Regions from separate parts of the Homo sapiens genome. Here region 2 is linked to region 1. Evidence: fine-mapped expression QTL. A gene starts in region 1. The other region holds a variant in brackets. All regions are shown on one strand. Distances are from middle to middle.

Region 1 (4,000 bases):
ATTCTAATAAAGGGGGTTCTCAGACATATTTGGAAAAATATATCCCTACTTTTATGCCAGACCCTGTGCTGGGTCCCCGGGCTGTGTGACCTGACACTGCACAGTCCTGCTTAGAATGCTTAAAGAGAGTTAATAAGGTACCACCTTCTATGCCATAGGCGGGGAGCAAAGGGGCTCCAGTGGGCCCTGCCTAGGAGGCCTGAAGCTAGAGCTGCTGAGGGCAGGGCTGTGCTGCAAAGAAAATGTCTGAGAGCTGCAGGCGTTTCATCTTCTGTCATCAGCTGTGGCACCTGGCAGACACTGGATAGGCTTGTAGACAAAGACCTGGTAACTCAAGGAGCTGCTTGGCCTTCCTGCCCAGTCCCATCCCAGAGGCACTGTACATCTCTGGTTTCTTCAGGGGGCCCTGTGTGGAAGTATCTTTTGTCTTCCTGGTGTCAGGGATATCATCACGTGCCTGTTGGCTAGGCGAGCCCGGCGCCCAGTCTCCTAGGATGGGGAGAGTAATGTTCCCGAGCAGAACAGGGTGGGGCTTTCAGACTACTCCCTTTCCTTTACAGCTGGCTTCATTCCATCGACCTCATCAAAGCCTTCCTGGGAGCACCCTAGAGAAGAGTTACGTCCAGGCCGGGCCCTGGCTGCCTGGTTCACGGCGGAATCCCCAGCACCACGCCTCGCACGTCGGGCTCAAAGCATGTTTAGTGAAGGAGTAGGTACCTACTGCTAGATGGAGCCATCTCTCTAGACTTGGGGTTTCCCTATAACGATGGCTATGTTTGGCATGGAAGCCTCTTTAGAAGTCAATAGTAGGAAATAAGGGCTAACAGCACCTAATTGTGGAGTAAGGTTCAAATCCTAGCTCTGCCACTTAACCGTTCCGAACCTGTTCCCTCACTGCAGAGGCGAAAAGGCTAACACTATTTCACCTCGGAGGGTTACCGTGGAGAATGGAAGCTGGACAAGCTGTATCAGTTCAGTAGTAAAACACACACACACAAGCGCCCCACCCCCACCCCACCCCACCCCAGGAATGAACACACACACCCGCGCGCGCACATACACCTCAGGAATGAACACACGCGCGTACACACACACGCAGCCCCCCCCAGGAGTGAACACACACACACACGCCCCGTTCTGTTGTTCCCAGGAACACACACAGAGACGCACACACTCGCCCGGTTTTGTTTTTTCCAGGCTTTTTAACTGGGGTCTTTCACTCGGCTTAGGGCACCGCTGCCTGAAAGACCTTTCTAGGCCAGTCGGGGTCCGGCACCCAGTTGACGAGACAGCGCGGCGCTTTCAGAGCTGGGGAGAGGCGAAAACTCTTCCGGCCCCCCGATCCCCCGGCCAGCCGCCCCCGGCAGCTCCTTGCCGCCTCCCGGCCTGGGCCCGCCCAGCCGTTCTCGGCCTGCCGTCAGGCGATCTCGGCGGCCAGCCCAGCCGCGATGTGACGCCGCGCGCCCCGGGGTCCTCGGCGCCTGCGCCCTCTCCTATAAAGCAGACGCCGCGCCGCGCTGCGACGCTGTAGTGGCTTCGTCTTCGGTTTTTCTCTTCCTTCGCTAACGCCTCCCGGCTCTCGTCAGCCTCCCGCCGGCCGTCTCCTTAACACCGAACACCGTGAGTAGCCGCCCACTGAACTGGAAAGGGTCGTGGCTACCGGATTGCGTGCCGGCTGGCCTCACCGCTGCGGTTTGGGCCTGCCCGCGGCGGGCGGTGACTGGGCCTGGCCTTCTTTCGGGCCCGGTGGATCGCGTTGTCGACCCTGTTCTTCGGGAGACCCTACCAGGTTCCGTTCACCTGCCCCGCCCCCGACTCAGCGAGGCCTCCTCTGGCCGGGCGTCCTCACGGCGCTCCATAAGTGAGCCGAACCCCGGGCTGGGCCTTCTCTGCACCGGCCGAGCGTCAGCCGGCGCGGAGCTCGGCTGCAAGGCCCAGGCTGCGGCCGGGGGCCTCTCTTGGTCTTAAGCCTGCTGTCCCGGGGACCAGGGCGGGGGTGGCGGCGGGGTTGTGAATGGGGGTCCCTTGGCTGTCGTGAGCGTGGGCGTGTGTCGGTGTCTGGCTTTTGTTGTGGTCGGGAGGGAGAGCTGCGGTGGTGGTCTGAGGCCGCCCGGTTCTTGGCTCCCATCCTTTCTCCACCGTGTCTGGCGTCACTAGCTACCGGTCGGTCCTGGCTAACCGTGTGCGGGCGCCGGCTTTCTGCACATAGCCGCCTGCTCCATCTGAATATTTCTTAGCGTTGTTTTGCCATGACTTGGAGTCGTTGAGCAGATACCATCGTCAGAGTGGTGTGACTTGTAGGAGCCTTAACTGTGTATAACTTAACTCTAGGTATCTGGCTTTTAAAGAAATAGGACGTCTACCTGCTTTGATTCACTTTTAATGGAAACTTCACGTTTGGGTTTTAGGGACATGCATTTTTCCTTTAGAGCGTGACAGTAGAATGTATCCGTTTCATAGAACAATACCGTCTCCTCCACTGTGCAGTCTAAAAAGCAGTGTCAGAATTTCGGGTCACTTAAAGCGCAGGGGTTTTTTTTTCTATATGATGTGATAGAACCCGCTTTATGCTGGCCATGGAGAATTATTTACAAGTGCAGGAGCCTTTAGGCCTCTTTCTTTAGAATGGAATTGTTTTGAAAGCATTTCAAATAAATATTTCATCCATTATTACTTAAAAATTTTGCACTTTATTCTACTGTAACACTAAAACTTATCTTTGAGTTTAGTATTACCAAGTGCATCGAATTACAGATTAACCGATTGACCAGCTGCTATTTAGTAAGGTCTCAACTCCCTTAAGAGTAACCCAATCCACAAACTTGACTATGACTAAGCACTTATCTTGAGTTATTTGAAAGAAATATGAAACGGTCGTCTTGCTTTTAGAGTAATTTTAATCAACTGCATTGTTAGATTTGTGATTCTGCACTGTTCATTTCAGTACTATCTAATATAAAAATTACATGTTTAAATGTTTTATAATTAAAAATTGGGCTCAGGTTAAAATATTTTCTTTTGGAGATACCTTTTGTTGTGGTCTTGTCACAGGAAGGGTCCTCTACTCTGCATCCTTCTCCATTAAGCAGGGACAACTGCATTATTGGCAAGCGCTAAGCAACATGGAGAAGCAGACATGTTTGTGAATCGCAAAGTGAAATCTGATTCTCTCCAACTATGGATGAGTGAGAGTAGGATATTTCAGTGGCTGGTTTTAAAACATGCTTTACTTTTTTGCTTCCTTTGCCTAACAACCTGTTTGCTTTGGGGTTGGCGACAATTGTCTCAGAGAAGCTGAATGAATATTTTAACCGATGTAATGGGTCATAAGTCTTTGAACATAAAATGGGTGTGATGCATGTTTTAAATGCCAAATGATACACTTTTGGGAAAATATATGCGATTTGTAATACAACACACCTAGAAAACTTCAGAGGTGCCATAAGTTAATAGTGACATCACCGGATTATGAATACTTGAGAAGCATGGGCCTTTTAAAAGTTGTATGTGAGTTTTAAGAGGCCTTGAATTAATCTGTACCAGGTATTGCTATTCTTTTTGTTGTTGTTGTTTTCCTTGTTTGTATGTTTTCTTTTTTAAAAAAAGAATTTGAAGATGGTAAGAAATTGTTGGACTTTTAATTTTAAATGCCTTTTTTTTTTTTTTTGCCAGAACTCAAGTCCTTTGAAATTAAATGCTTAACTTTTTATGTAAGATTATATCTTTTTCCTAACGACTCATAATTAATCTGAATTAATAAATGCGTTTTCAGAGCAAGTAATAGGTTATTATTATGGAGATCTTGCCAAGAGATCTCAAAGTTGGTCACCTGGACAGTCAGTACTGAAAGATAAAAAGGGCTCTGAAATGAAGCTTTTAAGTAGATTTAGGGAATTGTACTCACATCTGCTTATCTTTAAATCATTTTATTCTCTTGTATATGGTCTTGCATTGCCTCAGACATAAATGAGCATATTCTGATGTACTCTTTGGATCTGAA
Region 2 (4,515 bases), 51 kb after region 1:
AAACTGCCCTCAACGTGCCCCAGTGGGGCTGGCAGCGGCTCTGGTTCCTAAGCGGCTTTCCCACGGGGGAATAAGGTGGGCGGGCGCACCCATACCCTGAGACTCCCTCAGCTGCCTCAGTCCAGCCATTTCCCATGACTCAGAGCCTAGGAAACCCCCTAGCCCAGCCCGGGATCACACAGAGGAGGGTGCCTGGCCCAGGAGTCCAACAGCAGGCACTGAGCTGCATCAGGACCAACACTAGAAAGAGGAAGTGATCCACCTGTAGACAGGTCTTAACTGTCCTTCCATCAGGCACCAAATCGGAATCAATCCTAATGTCATTTACGGATACTTTTCCATATAACATTCCTTCTAGAAGCCCTGGGCACCTGCCTTTCAAGTAAGAAAGACAGCCCTTTTGGCCCTGGGAGCCCTGAACTTGCCAGGTGTCTGGGGAGGAAAGGGGTCATCCCTGACCCAGGCCCAGAGCTATGAGGTGCCCCTGGAGAGGGAGTGAGAGGACTATGGCCTTTCTCTGGGGCCAGAGGAATCCAGCTGGGTCCAGCTTATGAACCTGACAGTGTGCTGGGGGTACCACCCAGCTTCTTGGCCCGCAGTGCCCCCATCTCCACACATTGTACAGCAAATGGGATAGAGCAGGGAGGAGCATGGGTTTCAGGGTAAAACAGACCAAAGTTCAAATCCTGACTCTGCCAGGTATCAGCGCATTCCTTATCCTCTCTGAGCCTCAGTTTCCCCATCTGCAAAAAGGGAGGCCACAATAATACCTACTTTCTTGGCTTGTACGATCTTTTTTTTTTTTTTTGAGATAGAGTCTAGCTCTGTCGCCCAGGCTGGAGTGCAGTGGTGCAATCTTGGCTCACTGTGACCTCCGCCTCCCAGGTTCATGCGATTCTCCTGCCTCAGCCTCCTGAGCAGCTGGGATTACAGGCGTGTGCCACCGCACCCGGCTAATTTTTGTATTTTTAGTAGAGACGGGGTTTCACCATGTTGGTCAGGCTGGTCTCAAACTCCTGACCTCGTGATCCGCCTGCCTTGGCCTCCCAAAGTGCTGGGATTACAGGCGTGAGGCACTGTGCCCTACCGACTTGTACAATCTTGATATGAGTAAAAGCCCCTGGCATAGGCCTGGCACTTGGGAAGTGCTTGACACATGAACTACTGTAGTTGTTGTTATTCTTTCAACAACTGCTTACTGAGCACCTACTGTGTGCCAGGCCCTAGGGTGGGCACTGAGAACCCAGTGGTGAAATGAACAGATGTGGCCTGGGCCCCACAGATCCTCTCCGGCCCTTTCTGGTCCCAACTCCATCCCTAACACCACCCCCTGCAACATGGCCATCGACCCTGTGGCCTTGGCTCTCCCAGGTTCATCTGTCCCCACACCCCCGCCCATGGGGATGCCCACTGCCTCAAAGGCTGCCAGCGAGCTCTGGGGTGGCTGCTGCAGCCAGGCACGCACTCGGTGGCCAGCCCGCCTGGACCTTGGCTGTACCCAGCCAGCAGAGACCTCACTGCTGCCACTGCCGCAAGGCTCTCCACAGGCTGCCTCTCAGCATCTCAGAGGGCCCACCCACCTCTGCCTGCCTGGCCACCACGCCAGCCACAGAGCCATCTGATTTGAATGAAACTTCAAACTTAATGACTTTCATGCTGGTTATTTAAAACACAATGTAATTTTCTAAAACACCCTATTATTTCTTTTGATAGCTACAAAGCTTCCCCCAGTCCCATAAGCATGTTTATTTTTAGGGAAAAGAGTGGTTTGCAGTTGGTCATAGAGACCATAAGGAGAGGGAACCCACA[C/T]AGCAGGGCAAAGAGTCAACCCTAGCAGCTCAGAGGCCTGTGCTGCCCTGCCTCCTGCTTAGCGGGTTTTCCACCGGACACCGGGGTCTCCCGGGCAGGCCCTGCCCTACTCTCACAAACATGTTGGCAGTGACTCTCGTCCAGCATTGGACAGTGGCCAAGTAAACACCAGACTAGCACCCTCCCAGTGCTCCCCCTCCTTGGGGCCACTGTGTCCTCTTCTGTAAGATGGTTCCACTAGCTTTCCAATAAGGTTCCTACCAGCATTCCAGGCATGACAAGCCTGGGGAAGGGTCCTGAGACCACCACCTCACCCTCAGCAGCCTCCTCCTGGCTCTCCCAGACATTCTGCCTTGGGTACAGCCACAGGGCCTGAAGCTTTCACCAGCTGAGTGAGACCTGTGCCCAGATAAATTGGCTCCAGGCAGTGGCTGCCCACACTGGGAGGGTGAGTGGGTGGGGCCCTGCCAGTCGGGGCTCCCTGGCAAGGGAGGTGGCCTGGTGGTGGGTGGGTGTGCGTGCAGAGGTCAGCTGAGCCCCACCAATGCGGGGCGTCCTCTGGGAGCAGCTATTTTTAAGTCCCAGGCTTTCATGTGGCCAAATGATGTGGAGTTTACAAAGCATCAGTAATGCGTTTCAGATGGCGGCCCAGCAGGCCAGGAGGCTGGGCCCGCTGCCACCAGAGCCAGGTCAGAGTTAGTCAGAATCCCTCGGCCTAGACTCCCATCACCTGTCCCTCCCTCCCCATGACCCCTTCTTGCCTGGTGGGGAGGCTGGCTCTGGAGCAATGCTTGCAAGGAGCTGCCCAGCAAACCCCGGCTGAGGCCCACCCAGCACACAGGCCTCTCCATGGCCAGGGATTCCTACCCCATTTAAGAAACTGAGACCTAGAGAGGTTCACAGATTTGCGTGAGGTCACACAGCAGGGGGAGGGATGGCTTCCTTCCCATCACAGCTCCCTGCCCTCATGGGAAAACTGGGTTTCCTGGGAGGAGGTGATTTGCCACCACTGGCACCCAAACCAGCTCAGACATGGTGGAGTGGGGGCAGGCCTAACCGTGTAAACCCCCAAAGTCCACACCCACTGTTCCCTGGGGCCACGTCCTGCCCATCCATGCCTGGAGCCTCTGCCGCACACTCATCATTTGGAAGCACATGGTGTGGGGCCCAGACAGCTTTCCTGCCCTTGAAGAGCAAGCTAGTGGTTTTAATGGGGGGCAGGGCGGGGGGGTTAGGAGGAAGCTTATTTGGCAGAGTGTCTGCTCCTCTGATCTCTAGGGAGTTCTAGCTATGGAGTTGGGGCTGCGGGGTGAGGGCTTTGTGTCCCCAGGCTTGCTCCGGCTCTAGAGTAGTCTGCTAGCAGAGCCCAGGCAGGTGACCTCCTCCCAGGAGAAGGCCAGACTCAGGCTCACCCCAGGCCAGAGTCCCTATCCAGCAAGGGACAGAGACCCTCTACTCCCTGGGGAACTGGGCAAGAGGAGCCCCATGTTCCAGCAGAAAGCAGGGGAAGGGGGAACCCTCTGAGGAGGACAAGCCCACCCAGGCTGTAGACAGCTTGTGTGCAGCAGCAGAAGCAGGCCACACATTTTTAAGGGAGGAAGGCGGTTTCCCAGGTCCAGACCCCAAGCATGACAGGTCTGCGAAACAGGACAGCAAACTGCCTGAACCAAGAAGCTGACAATGTCCTGGTTTCTCAGAGATGCCCACCCTCCACCCCTGCCAAAGCCCCTGGGACCCTGGAGCTCTGCTAGAGACAGAGCTGGTCAGAGATGCTCTCCACACCCTGGCTGAGTCACCAATGGGCCTTGGGACCTGAGCGAGCCACTGACCTCTGGGGTAGAGTTCCCCTCAGTAATCAGGGGGCCAGACCCTAGGATCCCGAACCCCGAGAGAGCATGAGGGTCAAATGGAAGGATGGGAAAATGGAAAGTTCTCACCTCTGAGGTACCCCTGCCTTGCACTGCCCAACACCCTTGGGTCTTCTCCACCCAAAGCCTACCTCTCCCTTGGCTCTGTTCGAGTTCCTCCCATGATCCCCATGCCTCCTAGCATCCACCCTGCCCCAGCAGCTGGCTCTCCCCGCCTTTGTCCGCCATGTCCAATTCACACCATCTGTGGGTGGGTACCGCCTTGCCCTACCATGATGCCAACATGCTGCATGCGCCCATCAGCTTCTCCCAGGCTCTGGAACCAGCGCTGCCCCAGCACCAAGGTCACAGGCTGGGACCTTCTTCTCCAGTCTCACCGCACATCCTTCGTAGACCCTGGGCCTCTGTCTGCCCCTCTGCTGATGGAGCATGCCAGCCTCTGCCTCTCTCCTCCTTTGTTCCAGTGGGGCCCCCACCCAGAGTGTTCTCCCCCTCTCACCTGTGCAGGCCCCTCTCTCAGGAGCCTCCCCTGCTGCCCCCACTGGCCTCTCCCTCCTCTGTGCCCTTTTCCCAACTCCAGCAGAATCTCAGAGCCGACTTAGAGGCTCCCAGTGAAAGTCTCTTTGTCTCCCAGGACTGAGCTCTGGAAGGGCAGAGGGAGCCCGCCACATGCTGAGCCAGGCGAAGTATAGAGAAGGGGCTCAGTCGGGGTATGGACCCAAGATTACAGCAGAGAATGTGTAGTCTATCGACAGGCTGAGGGCCCAAGGGTAGGGTAGGCCAGAGGGCACTGCCCCAGGGGAGCTGGGAAAGGAAAGTGCAGCCAAGGCCCCAGTCC

Evidence for each region. PIP is the estimated chance that this variant, and not a neighbour inherited with it, causes the effect.
Region 2: its variant is the best candidate, but not a certain one, in a credible set for the expression of SKP1 in whole blood (INTERVAL, PIP 0.63).

What each region holds. Positions count from the first base shown.
Region 1 is chr5:134,174,475-134,178,474 of GRCh38, reverse strand. It overlaps SKP1 (S-phase kinase associated protein 1), which reads left to right and starts at 1,525. Exons shown (of 6, transcript NM_170679.3): 1 at 1,525-1,620. RefSeq lists enhancers at 107-621, 1,525-1,774, 1,865-2,144 and a silencer at 1,295-1,374.
Region 2 is chr5:134,123,190-134,127,704 of GRCh38, reverse strand. All of the region lies in intron 3 of TCF7 (transcription factor 7), which reads right to left. Among named protein-coding and RNA genes, the nearest start is that of TCF7, 11 kb to the right of the region's middle. RefSeq lists an enhancer at 1-228. The variant C/T (reference allele first, on the strand shown) is at 1,810.